Linked DNA regions of Homo sapiens: all the other regions are linked to region 1. The links come from fine-mapping of genetic effects on gene expression. A gene starts in region 1. Each other region holds a variant in brackets. All regions are shown on one strand. Distances are between the middles of the regions. Region 1 holds the start of MFHAS1 (multifunctional ROCO family signaling regulator 1). Region 2 overlaps MFHAS1 (multifunctional ROCO family signaling regulator 1). Region 3 overlaps MFHAS1 (multifunctional ROCO family signaling regulator 1).

Region 1 (7,674 bases):
CCTGCCAGGATCGAGGCAGTACTCTGTGTAAGTTGGGGAAGATCTCTCGGTGCTCAGCAACTGACAGCAACTTGTCCCGAAGGCGTCGTAAGTGGCGCGGGTCCCTGCAGCTAACAGGCAACACGGGGGAGAGGATCTGCAGCCGGTGGTTGAGCAGGTATTGAAAATGGGCCTTGCGCCGTCGAAGGTTCTTGTCCGAAACGCCATAGTAGGCTGCGTGGGGGCTGGCAGAGCGCAGCTCGAAGTCCCGGGCCAGTGCCTCGTCCACCACCTTGGCCAAGCGGCTCAGTCCCTCCGCGTCGTGCTTCTCCTGCAGGGCGATCTGGCGGTGAATGTCCAGACATTTCTCCTCCAGCTCACGCTCTCCGCACAGGTCTGCGTGGGTGCCCACGATGCACACCACCGCGTGGGGCACTCTCGCCCCGACCCGATGCAAGAAGGAGCCCACGGTGGTAGGAAAGTGGCGAGGCTCATAGGTGGCCAAGTTGACCACCAGCACGTATAGGGCCCCTGGGGACAGGAAGAAGGGCTGGATCACCTCATAACTTTCATCCCCAGCTAAGTCATACACGATGAACCGCAGGCCCCGGGAGGCATCGGCCGTCCAGCTGGTCACCTCGATGCCCTTGCTCACAGGGGGAGGTGACGGTGGGTAGCACTTCTCCTTGTCCCCTCCTCCTGGGCATCCCTCCACTCTCTCCTCGGTGAGGCAGTGGCGCAGCAAAGTCTTTCCTGCAGCCTTATGCCCCATCAGGAGCAGCTTGAGCCGGGGCTGCACCGCCGGCTGGGAATGAGCCAGTTCCTTCTGGTAGGCTGCGATGTAGGGGATCCCCTTCATGCAGACCTCGTAGGGGGGCTGGATCAGTGGGTTGTCTTTGATCTTCCACAAACCCACCCGGGAGAGCTGGCCAAAGTGGTCGGGCAGCACCGCGATCTGGTTCCCCTGCAGCACGAGCTCCTCCAGGCCGGTCAGCTCCACGATGGAGTCCGGCAGGTAGCGGATGCGGTTATTATCCAGCCACAAGGTGAGAAGCCGGCCCAGGCCCGAGATAAGGGATGGCACCGAGGTGAGCTGGTTGCGACTAAGGTAGAGCTCCTCCAGACCAGCCAGGGGCAGCAGCGCGGCAGGGAACTCCTCGAAGAGGTTGGAGGAGAGGTTGAGCATTTTGAGCCGCTGCAGGCAGCTGAACTGGGCGGGCAGAGCCTGCAGCCCGTTGTTGTCTAGCATGAGGCTCTCCAAACTGGCCAGCTCGCAGAAGCCGGCGGGCAGCGTGCCAAGCTCGGCCCCACTCAGCCAGAGGATCTTGAGGGCACGCAGGGCACTGATATCCTCAGGCAGGCCCCGCAGCCGGTTGCTGGACACGTCCAGCTCCTCCAGGGCCACCAGCTGCAGCAGCTGCCGGGGGAAGGCAGTGAGCTGGTTGTGATCCACGTCCAGGGTGCGCAGGCGGGAGAGGCAGGAGAGGGAGTCAGGCAGGTGCGCCAGCCGGTTAAAGCTGACATCCAGCTCCTCCAGGTGAGCGAGAGCGCCCAGCTGGGCGGGCAGGGCGGGCAGCTGGTTGTGGCTGAGGTTGAGCTTCCGCAGCTCCCTCAGAGCACTCACCACCTCCGCGCCCAGGGCGGTCAGCCGGTTGTGGCTCACGTCCAGCTCGGTGAGGTGGTGGCCGAGCTCGGCCACCGCCGGGGGCAGCCGGGCGAAGCGGTTCCTGCGCAGGACCAGGACGCGCAGGCTGCCCAGCGCCGACCCCAGCCCCTCGGGTACCTCCTCCAGGCCGTTGTTCCCCAGGTTCAGTGCCTCAATGTCCCCGAGGTTGGCCGGCAGCACGAGCTGGGGGGAGGCGGGGGACTCGAGCGCGTCGGCCCCGGCCCCGGGGCAGGCCCCGGCGGCGGTAAGCGTGAGCTGGCGCAGGTTGCTCCGCAGCTTCCTGGCACGCAGGGCGGCGTCCCGCCACAGCCTCGCGGTCTTCAGGTTGCCACTGTCCATCCCAGCCATGGCGGGGCCCCGGGCCGACAGCCTCACGCGGACGCGGGAGCCCGCAGCTACATGCCGCGCCGCGCCCCGGGCCCTCCGGCTCCTGCCCCTGCCTGCCCTCCCGCGCTCGGCGGCCGGCGGCCGCGGGTCCTAGCGCAGCCAGCGGCCGAGCGCTGGCGGCTAGGGGGCGGCGGCGACGCGAGCGGCTCCGGGGGACGCCGAGCGCGTGGAGAGCAGCTTGCATTCTCCCTGCGGCCGGGCCATGGGCGCGCCGGGCAGCAGGGCCGCCGCCCGCGCGCCGCGGAGGATGCCTGCTCCTCCTCCCTCTCCGCCCGCCGCGCGGCGCCTCGGGGGGCCCGGCTCCGGCCCCGCTACCCTCGCAGCCGCGGTCCCGCGGCCGGCAGCGGCGTCGCCTCCTCGAGCTCCTGGGGGAGGGCGGCGCTCGGCCCGGCGGCGGGCATGCTGCGGGCGCAGGGCTGGGGCGCAGCCGCGGGGAGGGGGCGGCGGCGCCTCCTTGTCTCCGTTTCCCCGGGCTCGGGCGGGAGCGCGGGCGCCGCGTCCCCGGCGCTGGGAGGGCGCGATTGGGAAGCGGCAGCGCCGCCCGCCGGAGCGGCCCCCACGTGACCGGCGGAGGCGCCGCGTTTTCCCGGCACCGCCCCGGGGGCGGGAGCTGCGGAGGGCGCCGGGTGCGGGGCCGGGGGCGCCTGGCGCGGGGCCGGGTCCGCGCCCCGGACCATGCTGGGCGGGGAGGTCGTCCCAGCGGCGGATGTGGGGCTCCGGGGCCCCCCTGGTGGGTTCGCCCGCGCCTGGCTCTTTGTTGGCCCCCAGTCTCTAAGGATTTCTTTTTCTTGTTCTCTAATGCGTCGGATCCGCCGGCTTCCCTTACTCATCCTTTACCTGCTCCCCTGCCGCTCGCCTTGCATCCACGCCGTAGTGGAACTGGCACAACTCGGGGGCCCTGGGTATCATCATAGAAGCTTAGGACAAGAGTGTGGTTAAACAAAATTAGAACAGGCAACCATTCATTCATTTGGTAAATATTTCCTGAGGCCCTATTTCGTGTTGAACATGGGACAGGAGTAATGCAGGCTGGTCAGAGGAGAATAAAAAATACCAGGCAGCAGTTTCACTTGACTGGAGGCTATGGGCTGATAAGACCCTGAAAACCAGGGTGTGTACCAAGCTGGCTAAGACCGGCTGGACCCGACGTGGTCCTGGATTTGACCTAGGTTTCTCCTAGGCCTCCATTATACGCTCTTTAACATCCTAAGTCACACCAGTGCCATGACAATTCCGGGGACACCCATATTTGAAGTAAAAATGGGTGGCACCACAGTCCCGAAAAATCTCCACACTTTTCCAGGAATTTTCATGAATATTTCACCCCTTGGTTAAAGAAACCCATAAAGGTAGCAGCCCCAAGCCCCGTTGTGAGTGACCCTCTCCACAATCCCTTTTCCTGGGTGTGTACTTTTCCCTTTGCAATAAATCTGCATATTGTCACTATTTTCTGAGTTGTCCTTGAACTCATTCTCTGGATGTGTCAAGAGCCTGGACATTGGCTGGGGTCAAGGTCGCACTGGCTTTAGAGGATCTCCCCCAGCCCACCCGTACCAGAACTACTAAAAGACGGTTTTAACCCCCCTGGGGAAGGCTTTTGAGCAGGTGGCCCGCCAGCCTAAAGGAGGGTTGTTAAGATGGGGGGGACACAAGCTGTTTATCTGGGGTATCCCGTTTATCTTCACAACAACGCTGTGAAACAAATACTGTATCCCCATTAATACAGTACCTGTTGTTCTGCGGACTCAAGAAAACAGCTATTTTGGGAAACAGTCACAGTCCATTGTTCAACTCTAATGCTTATTTTTATTGCTGTTAGGAAATGTTTCTTTGAGCTCACATCTATGCTAAGTCAATAATTTCTCCCGAACTTATGAAAGTCTGGAAACCTACCAAGACTCCCAGTGTCACCTCCATCATTCCCTTCAGGTTGATTGATAAGGAAGCAAATAGTTTTCAGGGACCGAAAACTGCGTTCAGTTGGTTAAAGGCATCACTTGACCCACTGCAGCTCTCCCCGACATGCGCTATGGCTGTCATTTGGGGACCCATATTTGGTGCAGTAACGTGAGAAGTGTGTGTTTCCAAAAAGAGCACCTGAACATCTGAGGCTGGAAATCCACCCCAGTGATGGTTATCAGGCTGCAGGTAGTACATGCTGTAACTGGAGGATGTTCCCCAGTTCTGCTGGGTCCCTGAGGCTCTGACACCACAGATGAAATGTGAGTAAGTGAACAGCAAGAGCTGATCTGTGTTCACTCTGAAGGACTTCCGAGAGTTCAGATGGCTCAGGGTAGCCCCACCCACACTCCCTCCCAGAGACAGTCAATTTTACAACAAATATTCTGAGTTATCTAGGCTGACCCTTTTTTTCCCCCACAGAGGAGGAAATGGGCTCAAAGTAAGTGACTTCTCAATCAGCCATCAAAGTAGAGTAGAGGCAGGACTGCTAACTCCCCGTGTGGAATGTATTCCCCTGTGATCATCACCTGTACTCACACTGTTCTTGAGCCAGACCCCAAATTCTCCATCCTGCAGCTTCTTCTAACAAAAATATGAACTCAGCCTGGGTAAGGAGACTGGAGTAGGCATCACCATCCTACACCACCTTACATGATTATATCTCAATAACTGCTAACTGTTCCTCTTTAGAAGCCATCAGAAAATTATACTTCCTCCTGCAGAAGCTGAAATCAATTGAAAAAAATGAAAATTGTGCTTGCTTCAGCAGCACATATACTAAAATTGGAAAAATACAGAGAGGATTAGCATGGCCCTGCACAAAGATGACATGCAAATTCATGGTGTTCATTTATTTAATAATATTTTCATTTAAAAAATTATTTTAAAAAAGAAAAATGGCCGGACATGGCATCTCATGCCTGTAATCTCAGCACTTTGGGAGGCCGAGGTGGTGGATCAGTTGAGGTTAGGAGCTCAAGACCAGCCTGGCCAACATGTCAAAACCCCATCTCTACTAAAAATACAAAAATTAGCCAGGCATAGTGGTGCGCACCTTTAGTCCCCAGCTACTCAGGAGGCTGAGGCACGAGAGTTGCTCGAAACCAGAAGGCGGAGGTTGCAGTCAGCCAAGATCACACCACTGCACTCCAGCCTGGGTGACAGAGTGAGACTTTTTCTCTGAAGAAAATTATATTTTCCTTTCTTTTCTTTCTTTCTTTTTTTTTTTTTTTTCTGGAGATGGGGGTCTTGCTTTGTTGCCCATGCTGGACTCGAACTCCTGGGCTCAAGCAGTCTTTTTGCCTGAGCCTCCTGAGTAGCTGGGATTATAGGCATAAGCCACCCTGACCAGCTTATACTTCTATTTTAAATGTCCTTGGAAAACTGCACTCTTCATTTGTCAGGAGATCATCTATAATTTGCTTTATCTAATAAAAAGTACTGGCTAGGACCCTGCGCTAGGGGCTTCAAGCCCCACTAAAGCCCCAAAGCCTGGAGTGAATAAGTGTGCTGGGGGTGGCAATTCTTTGTGAGCCCCTCAGCTGATGCAGTCAATATAGTAGGAAGCCTTGTAAGAATCCTTGTCTATGAGTTCTTTGAAAGTCAGTATGTGAATGGGCACAGGGGTATATGCCTGTAATCCCAGCACTTCCAGAGGCTGAGGCGAGCAGATCATTTGAGCTCAGGAGTTCGAGACCAGCCTGTGCAACAAGGCAAGACATCATCTCTACAAAAAATACAAAAATTAGTAGGGTGTGGTGGCGCACACCTGTAGTCCCAGCTACTCAGGAGTGACGCGGGAAGATCACTTGAGGCTGGGAAGTGGAGGCGGCAGTGAGCCAAGACTGCACCACTGTACTCCAGCCTGGGAAACAGAGTGAGACTCTGTCTCAAAATACAACACAACACAACAAAAGAAAGTCAGTATGCTAAAAACTAGAAAGTCAAATGATAAAAGATAACTCAATGATAAAAGAAAACTCTATGAAAAGATATTGTGTTCCATATAGCTTTAAAATTTTTTTTTCTTTGTGCTTTCCACTTTCAAAGAAACTGCTTCGTAAAGAACTATAGAAATGATTCCTGGGCTGGGTGCAGTGGCTCACACCTGTAATCCCAGCAGTTTGGGAGGCCGAGGCGGGCAGATCACAAGGTCAGGAGTTCGAGACCAGCCTGGCCAACGTGGTGAAACCTCATCTCTACTAAAAATACAAAAATTAGCTGGGCATGGTGGTGGGTGCCTGTAGTCTCAGCTACTCAGGAGGCTGAGGCAGGAGAATCGCGTGGACCCGGGAGGCAGAGGTCACAGTGAGCCGAGATCATGCCACTGCACTCCAGCCTGGGCAACAGAGCAAGATTCCATCTCAGAAAGAAAAAAGAAAGAAAGAAAGAGGATTCATGAAAGTATCATCTTTTCTGTTTTTTCATTGAGACAGGGTCTGCTTATGTTGCCCGGGCTGATCTCGAACTCCTGTGCTCAAGTGATCCTCTCAAGTATCAACCCAGGCAAGGACTCCTGCCGTGGGCACCTAACCTGGCCCTCCTCTCACCATGCTGTACCCCGTGTGGTTAAGTTTCTGATGGGCCAAGGGGGCACGCCCCCTCCACCTTCTAGAACACACATGGTATGGAGGACCCTGAATTCCCAATGCAAATAGCCTCAAGCCTGGATGGGGAGCGTGGGGCAGTCTTTCATAGTCATTCGAAAGAAGTTATTGAGGTGGGCATCCCTAGACCTGGGGGTTGTGCAGGAGCTGGACCTCAGCTGTGTGCCGACGAAGCTCCTCTCTGTGCTGGATGTAGCCCAGGCTAGGGCAAGGAGTGTGAATGTGCCACATCTGTTAGGGTGATGTAACACATTTAGATATTTAGGCATGTGGCATGTGGGCCTTCCCGTGTACCCTTTCCCCAGGCCCTGCAAAGGATAAGCGTGGCCCTGCAAATGGTAGGGTTTTTCTAAAAGCAAAAACAACAACAACATTGTTTGGAGAAGAGGAACTCTATTATATAAAGTTTTCTTTCCTTAGAGGTCTATCCAATGTCATGAATCTAATCTATAAACTTTCCAAAACCTTTTCAGCTTAAGCCTTTTAATATATCCTGTTTTCTGACTCTTAGATTGTTTTCTCTTTCGCTGCTGCCTTATGATGGCAAGAGCATTCCATACACATTGGCTTTGTTCCAGAGTCTAGACCCTGTCTGCAAGAGCAGAGTCATTCAGGAGAGTGGAGAGTACATGGAAAGAGGTTGTGTCTTGAGTGAGGCCTTGAAACATGGCTGTTTAGAAGGGAGAATCCTAGATGCTCCAGATAAGCGTCTTTTGTCAAGAACAGTCTGGATTGGCAATGTGTGATGGCTCACGACTGTAATCCCAACACTTTGGGAGGTAGAGGTGGGCGGATCACTTGAGGTCAGGAGTTCAAGACCAGCCTGGCCAACACGGTGACACCCCCTCTCTACTAAAAATACAAAAAAAAAAAAATTAGCCAGACGTGGTGATGCACTCCTGTAATCCTAGCTACTCAGGAGGCTGAGGCAGGAGGATCACTTGAACCCAGGAGGCAGAGGTCACAGTGAGCCGAGATCGTGCCACTGCACTCCAGCCTGGACGACAGAGCGAGACGCTGTCTCAAAAAAAAAAAAGTCTGAATAGAGGTGGGCAAGAGTAGTTTGTTCCTATC
Region 2 (7,674 bases), 25 kb before region 1:
TTTGGCTGGCCAATTTTTAGAAAGCTCTACTCCTAGCTGAAGTGCTTTTATTATTCTCTTTTTCTAAGCAGGAAGAATACAGAAGAACAGGGCCTGGGAACCTAGGAGCACTTCTCTTTACCATTGGTTCAGTAAAATCAGTGTCATTTTGCCTGCGAAAAGCTCTCTAACTGATCCCTGTTTTATCAGACGATAAAACTCTGACGCTGAATGGGAACCTAGAACAGGGATCTATGGCAACTTAGCAAGGATCACTTCTTTTTTGTTTTTTTTTTTTTCTTTTTTGAGACAGGGTCTTACTGTCCTCTAGGCTGGAGTACGGTGGCGTAATCTCAGCTCACCGTAGCCTCTGCCGCCCTGGCTCAAACAATCCTCCCACCTCAGCCTCCCCAACGGCTGCAACTACAGGCATGCACCACCACGCCCAGCTAATTTTTTATTTTTTGTAGAAATGGGGTTTTGCCATGTTGCCCAGGCTGGTCTTCAACTCCTGGGCTCAAGCGATCCTCCCACCTCAACCTCTCAAAGTTTTGGGATTACAGGCATGAGCCACTGCAGTCAGCCAGTAAGGATCACTCTTATCCCTAGTAAAAAGGATCCGTGATACAAAATGGCCACTGAGTCCCTTCTCTCTCCCCAGTCTCTTACACATTCTCATAAACAGTGATTGACTCACTTATTTTCTGCAGAAGACAGAATGGCATGAATGGGACGGAAACGGTTCATATGACTACTTGGATATCTCTCATCCTGTGAACCAGTCTAACAAGCAATTACCTTGAGGAATCTGAAAATAAAATCGTGATATGAATTCATGAATCAGGAAAGAACCGTGTACTTGCATAATTAGCCTTCTTTAGAGAATGGGGAAATACATATCTGATACAAGACAATTTTTAAGGTGTAATCCCATCATTTGCAAGTCACTAAGAATAAATGTGAAGGTGACAGTGGGAAAAAAAAGAAAGAGAAAGAGAGATGGGTTGGTATGATCTATTTTTAGCTTACAGTTCAGCTACACATAATATATTAACAAAATTTCTGATACTGCTAAGGTGCATTAATATAGATTAAAGGAAACAAGATAATAAAGGAGATGGACTGAGCTCTTCAAGTCTGTACTAGTAGGAAATGGAATTAAACACAGGCTGTGGGGTTTTATGAAAGTCACAATGGTCATCAGCATATGCAAACCCACTAAATTCTTCACCATATAAACTTTTTGTTACATTTTTATAACAAAAGTTAAAAATATACCCTCACATTTTTGAAAGTATGCTTCTTATGGTTCCTAAGATACCAAAAATAAAATAAAACATTCCTAAAACAGTCCAAAATTAAAAGGAGGCCCATAGGTACTTGCCTATAGGTGTCGCACAGAAAATTTTTTTTATAAAAACAATGTTTCTACTCTTTTATTATTAATCCAACCCCAGAATTTTAAAAGTATGCAAAGTATTATTACACGCCAATAAGCTAATGATAATTCAAACATTATAAATTGCTATACTTTTTTTTTTTTTTGAGGTGGAGTCTCGCTGTCTCCTAGGCTGGAGTGCAGTGGCGCAATCTCGGCTCACCAAAAGCTCCGCCTCCCGGGTTCATGCCATTCTCCTGCCTCAGCCTCCCAAGTAGCTGGGACTACAGGCACCCGCCACCACACCCGGCTAATTTTTTGTATTTTTACTAGAGACGGGGTTTCACCGTGTTAGGCAGGATTGTCTCGATCTCCTGACCTCGTGATGGGCCCACCTCGGCCTCCCAAAGTGCTGGGATTACAGGCGTGAGCCACCGTGCCTGGCCATAAATTGCTATACTTTTTTAGTAACAGGTTAAAAACCCTGGGATCTGAGGGAAAGACCAATTGTTTAACTCCATTCTTCATTCTCAACATGTGTTTCCTACCGCTAATAAATGGAACTCGAGTTTTTCCATGGCCCCACTCAGTTGGAAGAATCCTCTTTCTCGCCTGAACTTCTGTGGCACTCTGTCCAGACTGACTTTTATCATTTATTATAATAAGTGGTATAGCGCACAAACCTGATCCATTTTCTAGACCAAGTTCCCAACGCACAGGCTCTGAGGGGGATTCAGTTGAATCTCCCAGGTGCTTATTCCTTGCTGCAAGGCCTCTGGAAACTCCTGCTTTATGAATCTAGAATCAATGAATAAATATCCTGACAAATAGCTACTTACATGTAAACTCTAGATGTTATCTCATTTCTCTACACTGCATGAGCACTGTGTTGTATCTTTCGGCTAATAATATAGACAAACTAAGTTAATGATTATTCTTGCAAAGATGCAAAGATTTTTTTTAATCTAGTATGAACTAAAAGCCATAATTAATCACCGAGAAGGATAGCCTCAACTTTTTTAAACTGACTGTAAACTGATTACCTAGTGCCACTCGGCTAATACACTGGAACCAGCCCTTGGTAGACAGATGTGCCCTTCCAAACAGATATGCACAGTAGGCCTGGGCTCATCCCAATTTGGAGCTACTCCCAACTACTCGGATCTTTGCCTTGGATCAGCCCAACAAATGAGCATCTTATGGAAGATGAGGCCGCTCACAAACCCACAATGAAATACATGGCTTGGGCCCTCTCTAATGAATTACTCATGAGTCAGGCATGACACCTGAGTCTGGGAGGCTCCTCTCATAAAGTCGGTAGTAACCTTAACATAGAAAGAAGTTATAAATGACTATGCAACCTTACAACTGGCTTCCACCCATAGTCATCGCTACTTCATATGCAAACAGCACCTCTGATATCTCACTCAGATTCTAAAGAAATCTTTGCTAGGGGAAGAGAAAAAGGGAGAGGAAAAAAAAGACATTCTCTGCTGTGTTTTACATTTCTTAATCCTCTCTAGTTTCGTCTAGAGTTTAGAGAAAGTCAGTGAGAAAAAAGATTATGGGCATGTTCCTAACCATTTATTTCAATTTCCTTTATTATTAGGTGGAAAAGTAGTTAACAGCTATGCAAAGCAGGTGCAGAGAGGAGGAGGAGGAAGGCAAAAAGAGGGCCGCTTTTGAGGTGCATGAACCAAGAAGAGTCGCTGCCTGCTCTGTGCCATCATGCAGCTGTTAATGCCACAAGGCTGCTCTCCCACCCTCCCCAAAGTTGATAATGAAAAATCAAAGCACAAACAAAAGCAATGCACAGAACAGGATAGCAAAACCCGATCATCCTGCACCAACCACATCTCTTCAGTGCATCTGCTTTGACCTCT[G/T]CTTTTACAAGCACTACCACTGAAAATAAGCTAGAACAAAAGCTGATTCGTTATGCACAACCATAAAGAACTCCGGGGCACGCTACATACATAATTCATCATGCCAAGCACGCGACAATCAGCATCATTTATCTTTGCGGTATTTTAAAGCGGTGACAGGTTACTAGATATTTATAAAGTCTCTTATTTCTATGAGACCCTTCCAAATTTAAGAAATAAAGAACCTTATTCCTCTGCAAATGGCACTGCTTACAAACCTAAGACTATATATCTCCTGGAATTCACCTGGTATCCATCATAAGAGGGTGGCTACACGACCCTAATAAACCAATTAAGCTAGCAGCCGTTCCACATCAGTCCTGTTGAAATTAATCTTATCAAATCACTTCCGCTTTCTGTTTTTTAAAACATGCTGCAGTCTTCTTCCCGCTGTGGTTAAAATTTTTCTTGAAACATACACTTAAATCAGTCATGCTTTCTGTCTAATGGATGAGGAAACCGGAGCCTGGGAAGGTTCAAGAGCTCAGAGCTAGGAGGAGAGAGGCCCAGGACTCTGCCTCATTAACATCCAAGACTCAATTGCCTTCATCCCCAAGGACCTACCTGGGGGCCTCTATTGTTTATTATTGTCTGAATTACCTCTAAGTGGTCCCTCTGACTCCATTCTTACTCCATTGAAATCCATCTTCCACACTGCTGCCCTGAGTGTGCTGACAAAATGGAAATTTGACATTTCCCCATTTGACCCTTCAGTATTTTCCTCTCACCCTCTGAAAAAAACCATCAGGCTTTAATTTAGCTTAACACCCAGATGCCAGAAGTTCCTTCTGGTGAAAAAGTGTTAGCTAGTGAATAGATAGGCTAAAAGTTATTTACACGGGATATGTACAGTGGTTCAACCTGTAATCCCAGCACTTCGGGAGGACAAGATGCACAGATCACTTAAGCACAGGAGTTCAAGACCAGCCTAGGCAACATAGTGAGACCCTGTCTCTACAAAAAAAAAAAAAAAAAAAAAAAAATTAGCCAGACATGGTGGCACGCACCTACAGTCTCAGCTAACTCGGGAGGCTGCAGTGGAAGGATAGCTTGAGCCCAGGAAGTTGAGGCTGTGGTAAGCTGAAATCGCGCCACCTCACTCCAGCCTAAATGACAGAGCAAGACTCTGTCTCCCAGGAAAACAAAAAAGGTTTAAAAAGAAAACAAAAATATTTACAGACGTGCATTGATAAATGAATAGTTGGGCTGCCAGTAATTTGTACAGCCCATCACACGTCAGGGGCCCTGGTTTTACAGAAAGTCCCTACGACTCACCTCCCCTGGAGACCTCCCATCCATCTAACCACCCCACACACACACACGTGGATCAAGACAGATTCCATCCCGCAGGCCTCTCCGAGCCCCTGGAGATCTTTTTCTCCTGGAATTTATTACACAGCCCTGCAAATCTCTGCTTACTGTCCACACTGCTTCCCTGGACTGCAGCTTCCCGGGGTCAAGGCCTTGCTCCCCTCCCATGCCCCATGCTCTGCCCCATGGCTGGTCACTGCCAATCCCCAGCAAATGTTTATAGTCCAGTACTGCAATGTTAAAAGCAACCATGTGCATTTCACACAAGGAGTCCTTACTTTTTTTCTTTTTTTGGTGACAGGAGCGTCACTCTGTTGCCCAGGCTGGAGTGCAATGGTGCAATCTCAGCTCATTGCAACCTCTGCCTCCGGGGGTTATTCTGCTTTTCATTCAAATAACTACCCATTTTTAATGGGTGACAAGCTATTGCCTTCCTGAGAAGCAGCACAGGGTGACAGCAAAGACCATAGGTTCCTGAGGACAACCTGGGCTCTGCTACATGCTGTGTGCCCCTGGCCATATGACTTAGCCCTCCTCTGTCTCCACTCCTCATCTGTAAACCAGGATGATGGTAATCAGAGCTAATGTTTACTGAGCCCTTATTATATGGTAAAAACTACTTGCAGCTGGGCGTGATGGCTCACACCTGTAATCCCAGCACTCTGGGAGGCCGAGGGGGCTGGATCACTTGAGGTCGGGAGTTTGAGACCACCCTCGCCAACTTGGTGAAACCCAGTTTCTACTAAAAATACAAAAATTAGCTGGGCATGGTGGCACATGCCTGTAATCCCTGCTACTCATGACAATGAGGCACAAGAATCATTTGAACCAGGGAGGTGGAGGTTGCAGTGAGCCAAGATCACTCCACTGCACTCCAGCCTGGGCAACAGAGTGATCACAAACACGCAAACAAAGAAAAAACTACTTGGGGACTTGACATCTATTCATTCATTTCCCCCTCACAACATCTAAGGAGACTCTGATAGCAGGTGTAAATGCTTGGGAACTGTTAGAATTATTTTTACCTATTTACAGACGAAATTGAGGCCCAGGGAGGCCAAGTGGCTTCCCAGAGGTCCAGGCCCCCGACTTCCTAATCCACTGATTTAATTACATCCAAGGCTCAGATGCATGGGCTCAGATGTATGAATGGCATTCAAGAAGTGCCTGGGAGAGGTTAACATACTGCTGATAAAAGATGCAAGGCCTCTTTCTCTAATGCTGGTTTAATATAAAGCAAGTAAGCTGCATGGCAATATTCATCTCTAGCTACAGCTAAGGTGACACTTGTTCTGTCACCCTACCTAGGAAACCGTATCAACTCCCTGAGATGAAAATCTGCCCCATTCCAGAAATGAGCTAAATCAAAGGAGGGAGAAGGAAGGAAGAGGAGGCTAAGGCAAAAAGTTATTCACACTTTGCATAAACATGCCCGGATGGCAAGCATTATAAAACGATCTGTGTAACATAAGCTTCTGGGTCCATGGGAGGCAAGGGAGCATGTGACTGTGCACGGATATGAACAAAGCCAGCGACACACCACCAGATTCTTCAAAAGCAAATATTTGTCTATGACCAAAGAATCGGGATTCTTTTCTAACAAAGAGGAATGTACACCGTTCTAATTCCTGATTCTTCCTCCTGCTTTACAGTGGGTTATGATCTCGATGGAAATCCCCCCATGAATAAATGTGTCTGCAATCACAAATGGCCCCATAAATCAGAAGATTTATGAACTGTAAAAGGGGACGGCAGGAGGATTCCAACCTTGCAGCTTCCTTCATGCGGACCACCTGGGGCCGGATGCATGGCAGTTTATCACTTCCTGGAAACAGTCATCTGGCTTTTCTTTTTAGCTAAGCAAGAAAATGTTATCAGCCCTGGTAATCAACAAGATGCAATCATCCCTGCTATTTGGGTAAGCTTTTAATGCCGCACCACATTACACAGAGGAGGCTCAGATGCATAGGCTCGGATGCATGAACAGCATTCAAGAAGTGTCTGGGAGAGGTTAACACACAGCTGATAAGCTCTGGCTGGCTGCAGTGAGGCCTGGCCCAACAGCCCCTAAGGCAAATTCCTGAAGGGACTAAATAGAAAATGAGTGGATATTCCCTATTCCAAGGGAAAAAATAAAAATAAAAAAAAAGATGGGAACAATACAGTAACCAGGGAAAAGCACAGAGCATGCACATGTGTGTTTTTCTTGGGGAGGGGGAAATGCATATATTTCAGAGGCTTAACAAATACATTCAAAAGAACACCTGCTCCATCCCAGACAGGCAGCAGAACATCGTGCAAGAGTGAGACGGAGACAACCGGGCAGTGCCACTCGTGAGCCATCTGGGAGTGAGGGGTGTCAGGGAAGGGGACAGATGCACCCTACAGGGCTTTGCATCCCAGTTCTTATTACTGTACCTTGGGCACAAAACAGCCCAGCTCTAGGCAAGCCAGTGAGCCATTTTTGGTATCATAGTGTTCTTTTGGAAAATTCACATTTCTATTTTTAGTTCTTCCACATGCAATTCATAAGCAATAGCCCTCCGGAATCAAAGTCACCTCAGCTATGCCATGAGTCAAGAGAATCCCAGTGAATATATTTTTTAATAGCATGTTCAGGGAAAATGTGACCAGCTCTGTTCGGCCATACTGTCTGCATTGACTTGGCAGTTAGCATGAAATGAAGGATTTTAAAGACCAAACACTTCAATGAGTCCTGTGAAAAAAACTCCCAAGAACCTGACTGGGGACTTTGTTAGCTTGAAATAAATATATACGTCATTAAGTATGTTTTAAACACAGAAGCAACTATAACAGGATTTAATTGCTTACTTTTTTTTTTTTTTTTTACAGGTCAAACACATTTTAGAGTGCTGGGTTACACCCACTCTTTCTTCATCACATGTACAGAAAGGCAAAGAGTGTGGGTAATCTCTTAAATTTTAAATTCCCACTTGGTATGAGGATAAAACATCCAAGAAACATTTCCTGTGCAGAACACACCAAGCTTAGGTGTAGAAAATACAACGGTGTGGAACTCGAGAGGATGGTTCTAGGATACAAATAAAAACAACCACGCAGCGC
Region 3 (7,674 bases), 39 kb before region 1:
GTCCAGGTGCGGTGACTCACACCTGTAATCACATTTGGGAAGCCGAGGCGGGCAGATCACTTGAGGTCAGGAATTCGAGACCAGCCTGTGCAACATGGTGAAACCTCATCTCTACTAAAAATACAAAAATTAGCTGGGTGTGGTGGCATGCACCTGTAATCCCAGCTACTTGGGAGGCTGAGGCAAGAGAATCGCTTGAACCTGGGAGGCGGAGGCTGCAGTGAACTGAGATCACGCCACTCCAGCGTAAGCAACAAAGCGAGACCCTCTCTCAAACACACACACACACACACACACATACACACAAACACACACACCCACAAGAGGGTTTAGACCTGGTGCCTGCTGGTTTCAGCCACTCTAAAACCAATGGGAGGATTTTATTATTTTATTTCTTTGCAAAATAATTGGTTCTGTGGACACCATCGCCCTTCATTAAGGCTGAGATTCTGACTTCCATGGCCATTTGCCATTGATGCTTTTAATAACCATGCATTAATTCCGTTCTGAAGTCCAGAGAAAAAGCTTTCTATTTTTGCCTTCCCTAATAGGGCACAGCCAAGAGAAAGCATCCCACCATGCAAAGCTCTAGCTTGGCTGACATCAGAACAGAGTCCGGTAAACAGTTTCTTATATTAGGCTATCATTGTTGTTAGCCCCGATGAGTCAAATTTACATTCTGGGAGAAGGGTATGAGCCCTCACTTCTACATACTTAAAGTCAGAAGTGATTGCATTTCCATAAGAACATTTATACCCGGATGTATTTCAGAGTCCTACTTTGTGGCTGGGAAGGTGGCCTAAAAAACCCAATATCACCCAAAGGAAGCAGGAGGTCCTGATTCTGTTCTCAGCAGCAACTGCCTGGCTCAGTCCGTGTGTCTGCTCTCAAGACCCCGACTATGCCCCTGCAGGCTCCATTTCTCCTACTACACAAACAAGGCTCTTGCCACCCACTCAGGCTTATTTACTTGCACTGTGTACATATACACCGACTCACACACACACTCACATACCCCCCAAAAAAAATGGAGGCTTAAAATACCCCATTTTGTCACAGTTTGCTCGGAAGCTACTCCCTCTAGTTCAACAGGCGGCAAGCTCCTGTCCTACCTGCCCCTTTCTACCTTTTGGGAATAAAAAGGAGCAACCAGAAATAGCAGAGAAAGCGGAAGGGAACCAGGATCTGACTCGTAATTACAGTTCCATAAACCCAGACAACTATTTTTGTTAGTTAACCTGGACAATCGCACAAGGTGTCTGCTCATTCTTAAAAAAAAAAAAAAAAAAAAAAAACCACACACAACTTAGATTGCTAGTGCCTGGCACGTACAAGGCAAACAGTGTGGGTACAACCATTAGGTCAGGTCCTAGCTACGTATATATATTTGAGATGGAGTCTTGTTCTGTCGCCCAGGCTGGAGTGCAATGGCGCAATCTCAGCTCACTGCAAACTCCGCCTCCAGGGTTCAAGCGATTCTCCTGTCTCAGCCTCCTGAGTAGCTGAGATTACAGCTATGCGCCACCACTCCTGGCAAATTTTGTGTTTTTAGTAGAGACAGGGTTTCACTATGTTGGGCAGGCTAGTCTCGAACTCCTGACCTCAAGTGATCCCCCTACTTCGGCCTCCCAAAGTACTAGGAGCCACCACCCCTGGCTTAGCTACCTATTTCTATTGTCAAGGTTATCCAACTGTTGTAGGTTAAATGGTCCATACTCACTAACACACTGGTGAAGGTGGATAATTACTATTTCCAATTCCCATGTTGCATTCCATAAAAGACACCAACCAACTCCATGAACACCTTGATTTGTCTTAGTTGTGTTCACATTATTAAATTACACTGATTTAGGAGCAAAAAATCCTTTGTAAGTCATGGGCATTGTATAAGGTTGCCCAATTTACAAAACAAAAATATACGCTGGGTGTGGTGGCTCACAGCTGTAATCCCAGCACTCTAGGAGGCCAAGGTGGCAGGATGACTTGAGGTCAGGAGTTCAAGACCAGCCTGGCCAACATGGTGAAACCCCGTGTCTACTAAAAACATAAAAATTAGGCCAGGTGCAGTGGCTCACGCCTGTAATCCCAGCACTTTGGGAGGTCAAGAAGAGGTCAGGAGATCAAGACCATCCTGGCTAACACAGTGAAACCCCGTCTCTACTAAAAATACAAAAAATCAGCCAGGCTTGGTGGTGGGCGCCTACAGTCCCAGCTACTCCGGAGGCTGAGGCAGGATAATGGAGTGAACCCGGGAGGCCGTACTTGCAGTGAGCTGAGATCGCACCACTGCACTCCAGCCTGGGCAACAGAGCGAGACTCTGTCTCAAAAAAAAAAAAAAATTAGCCAGGTGAGGTGGTGCATGCCTCTAGTCCCAGCAACTCAGGAGGCCGAGGTATGAGAATTGCTTGAACCTTGGAGGTGGAGGTTGCAGTGAGCCAAGATTGCACCACTGCACTCCAGCCTGGATGACAGAGGGGGACTTTGTCTCAAAAAAAAAAAAAGGAAGAAAGAAAAAAATATGTATTATGACTAAATCAGAACATCACATGGAACATATTTACACTAAAAATTATTCGTTGCTTACGTGAAATTCAGATGTAAGAATAGATGTATACATGAGACCCACCCATAAGCAACACTTTATTGTTTATCTGAAATTCAAATTTAACTGGCTATCCTGTTTTTTTGGTTTTGGGTTTTTGGGGTTTTGTTTGTTTGTTTCTTTGTTTTTGATACAGGATCTCACTCTATACCCCACGCTGGAGTGCAGTGATACTATCACAGCTCACTGCAGCCTCCATCTCCTGGGCTCAAGTGATTCTCCCATCTCAGCCTGTCAAGAAGCTGGGACCACAGTCGTGGTCCTCCCTCAGTATATATGGGGGGTTTGGTTCTAGGGCCCCCACCCCCAGCATACCAAAATTATTTTTTATTTCTTGTTGAGAGAGGTCTCGCCATGTCGCCCAGGCTGGTCTCGAACTCCTGGGCTCAGGGGATCCACCCGCCTCGGCCTCCCAAAGTGCTGGGATCACAGGCGTGAGCCACCACACTCAGCCGACATCCTGTATTTTATCTGGCAATCTTAACATTGTATTAGGACAAGCGGAAAACAGATGAATTAAGACATGGCATCTTACCACAGGAGCTCATTGTCTGGTGAAAGAGCCAGACCTGAACTAGAATCATAC[A/G]ATGGAGGATTGGAGGCGCTTTCCAAGCGCTTTCAAGAACACAGGGAAGGAGCAATTAAATCCTAACTGAGATGCACACTAATGTCTCCATCCTGCACAATGAAAATGAACGTTATAGAATTTATTCTATCATTCTATATATCCCACAGATTCTTTAATCCTGATTCATGAACTCGCTACAGTGTTTTCAGCCAGGCACGGTGGCTCACACCTGTAATCCTGGCGCTTTGGTAGGCCGAGGCGGGTGGATTACTTGAGGTCAGAAGTTCAAGACCAGCCTGGCCAACATGGCAAAACCTACTCTCTACTAAAAATACAAAATTTAGCCAGGCATGGTGGCAGGCACCTGTAATCCCAGCTACTTGGGAGGCTGAGACAGGAGAAGCACTTGAACCTGGGAGGCTGAGGTTGCAGTGAGCCGAGATCACGCCACTGCACTCCAGCTTCGGCAACAGAGTGAGACGCCGTCTCAAAAAAGAAAAAAACAAAAAATTATGCTTTCTGCCGTTATTTTCATCTGAAGCAAGTTACTGACAAGGTAATGTGAAGGGGGTTATAAAACACTGGCCATAACAGATTCAGAAACACAGATGAGAAAAGATGCTCAGTTATTTCAATGCCAAATAAGCCTCCTCACTTTTGTGCTTTGAAAGCGAGCGGGGACTGAATGTTTACCTGTTTCAGAACTACAGTTTAGAAGACGGTCTTCCCCATGTCTGCTGAGATGAGGGATTCCCCATGAACTCCTCACATGCACAGCTCTGAAAGTAAGATCTGGGGCCCTTATTTGGAAAACAAACTCCCTAGATCTTTTTGCTCCAGCAGCCAAAGGAGCTGGGCATGGTACAAGAGTCACTGGTCAGGTGGGGTCAAGCCAGGACAGTGCTGGAGAGATCTGTCCCGAGCTCACTCGAGTGTCTTTCTCATGGCACTGGGGCAAGCATGACCTGCACAGCCTGGCACAGAAACAGCACTTGCCCAGAAGATACTTCCCCGTATTTCAAGATCAAACAAAGTAGGACGCAGAAAAGAAAAGAAGCAAGGGAGGTAAGGGATGGTGTGTACATATTTCCTGTTGGAATTCCTCTGGAGTATAAAAAAGAGGGCCTGACAATTGCCAAACATATCAGGTGAGGCTTTGGGATCCACTGGTGGGAAACACTGAATATATTTAATATCCAAGACAATAATTCAAAGACTCTAAATTGGGAAATTAGCTTAATAGTATTTTACTTGCAAGGTCCTACATTTCAATATTAAAAATACTGACACATTAAAAAATGAAATTGGTCTTTTATTCCTAGCCTATTCATCTTTGCATCTTTCCCAGCACAGAGCATCCCCATGGCACTCAGCAGACCCCCATGATGTCTGGTCAATTAATGAGTTAATGGATGGTTTCAAGCCCATGAGCCAGATTCCTGTCACCGGCATGTATCAGTTTATTGCTGCACACGGGAAACCTTGCAGCCACAGGGCTTTGTTTATACACTGCCCTAGAAGCCACTAGGATTCTCTAGATCAGAAAGAGAAATATATTCTAGTTCTCATCTTTCAAACTGGCTCAAAACCTGACACTTTCACATCAGGAAAGTGAAAAAAAAAAAAAAAAAAAAAAAAAAAAGAGGAGAGATACCGAAAGAGCCAGGCTGTTCATAATTTTGTTTTGGAGGCAGTGCAGAAGAAAACATCCTAGAGAGGCACTGCCAAATTCTAAAAAGAGTCTTAGAATGCCAAAAACAGATTCAGTCCCTTAAGCAAAGTGGAAGGGAAAAAAGAAGCCTATCAATTCAAAGCAATAAAGATTTAAACAGAAAGTTCATGAGACATCAATAAATTCCGCGTGTGGCCCTATTGTTTAGTTACTAAACTGCCAATGCAACTTTCAGTGGTTAACCAACACAGCACAAGTTTGCTCCTAATTTAATATCCCTTTCAGATTTCTGATTCCATAATGAGATATCTTCCAGGCCAAAATATGCCAAATTTTTCTACCCTGAAACAAACCTGTGAATTTTCTGGGCTTAGGTCCTTTCTTTTTTCCTCCATTCAGCCACTGAAATAATAAGAATTCTAATTAAAAATGAGTTCAGGCCCGGCGCGGTGTCTAACGCCTGTAATCCCAGCACTTTGGGAGTCCCAGGCAGGTGGATCACAAGGTCAGGAGCTCGAGACCAGCCTGGCCAATATTGTGAAACCCCGTCTCTACCAAAAAATATATAAAAATTAGCCAGGCATGGTGGCGGGTGCCTGTAGTCTCAGCTACTCAGGAGGCTAAGGCAGGAGAATCGCTTGAACCCGGGAGGCAGAGGTTGCAGTGAGCCAAGATCGCACCAAGGCACTCTAGCCTGGGCAACAGAGCAAGACTCCGTCTCAAAAAAAAAACAAAAAAAAATCTTTTGTTTGTAAACTCAGTAGATATATAACTGTCCTACAGTGACATTGACAAGTTAACTTTTAAAATACCTAAAGCAAGTTTCCCTGTAGAGTTGGGCAAATTCCATATGCTGACTGCCCACTTGTTGATACATTTTGCTATCAGGAACCCAACACCACCAATTTTGGGGAAACCTTTTTCTAAACAAATGAGAAAATCCAAGATGATTCAAATAGCTGAGCTGAACAAAACAAAATGCTCTGAGACAATGACTGGTGTTCACTGATCTGGGTCATTTGCCTGCCTCCACGCCTGACAGCCTTTGACCTATCCCAAAGCAACAGCCATCTGTCTAGTATCTGAACAGAAATTGGGACGGAGCACAGGGGGTATACAAGGCAGGGAGTAGTTAAGAAGCCAGCAAGGGAAGGAAGGAAATTGTTTAGTAAGTGCCCACTACATGCCAAGCATTGTCTTAGGCATTTTTATATGCATTATTTTATTCAGTCCTTACAAGAGCTGTATGACATAAATTTTGCTTTTTTAAAACTAAGCAAGTCTCAGATGTCTCCATGTCATCAAAATCTAAATATATAACATTATTACCCTTTGAAAATTCTAATAAATGAAAGAAAATTTAAATTTAATATTTAAAATTATATTAAATGGCCCATCCAGTTTTGGAGCCTAGGAAGGGTTCAACAAGAGTGATTTATTTTACTAAGACCTAGAGCAACAGATGAGACCTATGTTACTGAAAACGATTATGCAATGCTATAATTACAACTATATTAAAAATATGCCTTTTGGGGGATACTCTCTTCATTGTGGCGATGGCCTCACAGGTAAAAAACAAAAATAGACAGTCCTCCCTCGGTATATATATGGGGGGTTGGGTTCTAGGGCCCCCATCCCCAGCACACCAAAATCTATGCATAAAGTCCTGAAGTTGGCCCTCGGGACCTGCATATGAGATGAGCCAGCCCTCCGTATGCACAGGTGGCGTCGAGGTGGACCCAAGCAGTTCAAATCTATGTTGTTCAAGGATCAACTACACTCATGATTCAGACCAAAATAGAAATAAACAAAGTGAAAATATCCGTAACAACAAGGATAAAGCATTCTCAGTCAAAAAAGACTATATAGAGGAACACAAGCCAGATATCTGTTTTATATTTCTCAACATATTTTCTGCACAATACCAGCTCCAGCGGATGTTACTTCTTACATATGCACACACATACACACACACATAAAGATTCTTCAGTCAATAAGTTTGAAAAATGCTTGGTTAAACAAAGCTCACCACGGCTGGTAGTGATGGCTCATGCCTGTAATCCCAAAACTTTGGGAGGCTGAGATGCAAGGATCACTTGAGGTCAGGAGTTCGAGACCAGCCTGGCCAACATGGCGAAACCCCGTCTCTACAAAAATTACATGGGTGTAGTGGCACACGCCTGTAGTCCCAGCCACCTGGGAGGCTGAGGCAGGAGAATCACTTGAACCCAGGAGGTGGAAGTTGTAGTGAGCCAAGATCACACCACTGCACTCTAGCCTGGGTGACAGAGCAAGACTCTGTGCCCCTCACACCAAAAAAAAAAGTTCACCATGTTTCCTAACTGTGGAACTTCTCAGAGGCCTTCTCATACACTAAGATACTTGGTGCTATTCAAAGACAGCTTAATAAAATACAGTTGATCGTTTAACAACACGGGTGTGAACTGTGCTGGTCTACTTATATGACAGTTTTCTTCCACCCCTACCATGCCTGAGACAGCAAGACCAACCCCTCCTCTTCTTCCTCCTCCTCAGTCTACTCAATTTTAACATGACAAGGATGAAGACCTTCACCGATGATTTACTTCCATTTAAGGAACAGTAAATATATTTCCTCTTCCTTACGGTTTTCTCAGTAACATTTTCTTTGCTCTAGTTTACTATATTGTAAGAATATAGTATCTAATATCTATAATGTACAAAATATGTGCTATTGACTGTTAATGCTATCAGTAAGACTTCCAGTCAACAGTAGGCTATTAGTAGTTAAATTCTGCAAAGTCAAAAGTTAGATGTTCAACTGAATGGGGGGTCGGTGCCCCCAATGCCTG

What was found.
Region 2: its variant is fine-mapped to the expression of MFHAS1 in whole blood (TOPMed, PIP above 0.99).
Region 3: its variant is fine-mapped to the expression of MFHAS1 in whole blood (INTERVAL, PIP above 0.99).

Annotation. Positions count from the first base shown.
Region 1 is chr8:8,891,066-8,898,739 of GRCh38, forward strand. MFHAS1 (multifunctional ROCO family signaling regulator 1) reads right to left here and starts at 2,565. Exons shown (of 3, transcript NM_004225.3): 1 at 1-2,565. The coding sequence starts at 1,993. It also overlaps the pseudogene RNU6-682P. RefSeq lists enhancers at 1-25, 26-985, 986-1,946 and silencers at 1,791-2,060, 2,171-2,450, 2,461-2,710.
Region 2 is chr8:8,866,054-8,873,727 of GRCh38, forward strand. All of the region lies in intron 1 of MFHAS1 (multifunctional ROCO family signaling regulator 1), which reads right to left. Among named protein-coding and RNA genes, the nearest start is that of MFHAS1, 24 kb to the right of the region's middle. RefSeq lists a silencer at 2,426-2,720. The variant G/T (reference allele first, on the strand shown) is at 3,241.
Region 3 is chr8:8,852,196-8,859,869 of GRCh38, forward strand. All of the region lies in intron 1 of MFHAS1 (multifunctional ROCO family signaling regulator 1), which reads right to left. Among named protein-coding and RNA genes, the nearest start is that of MFHAS1, 38 kb to the right of the region's middle. The variant A/G (reference allele first, on the strand shown) is at 3,190.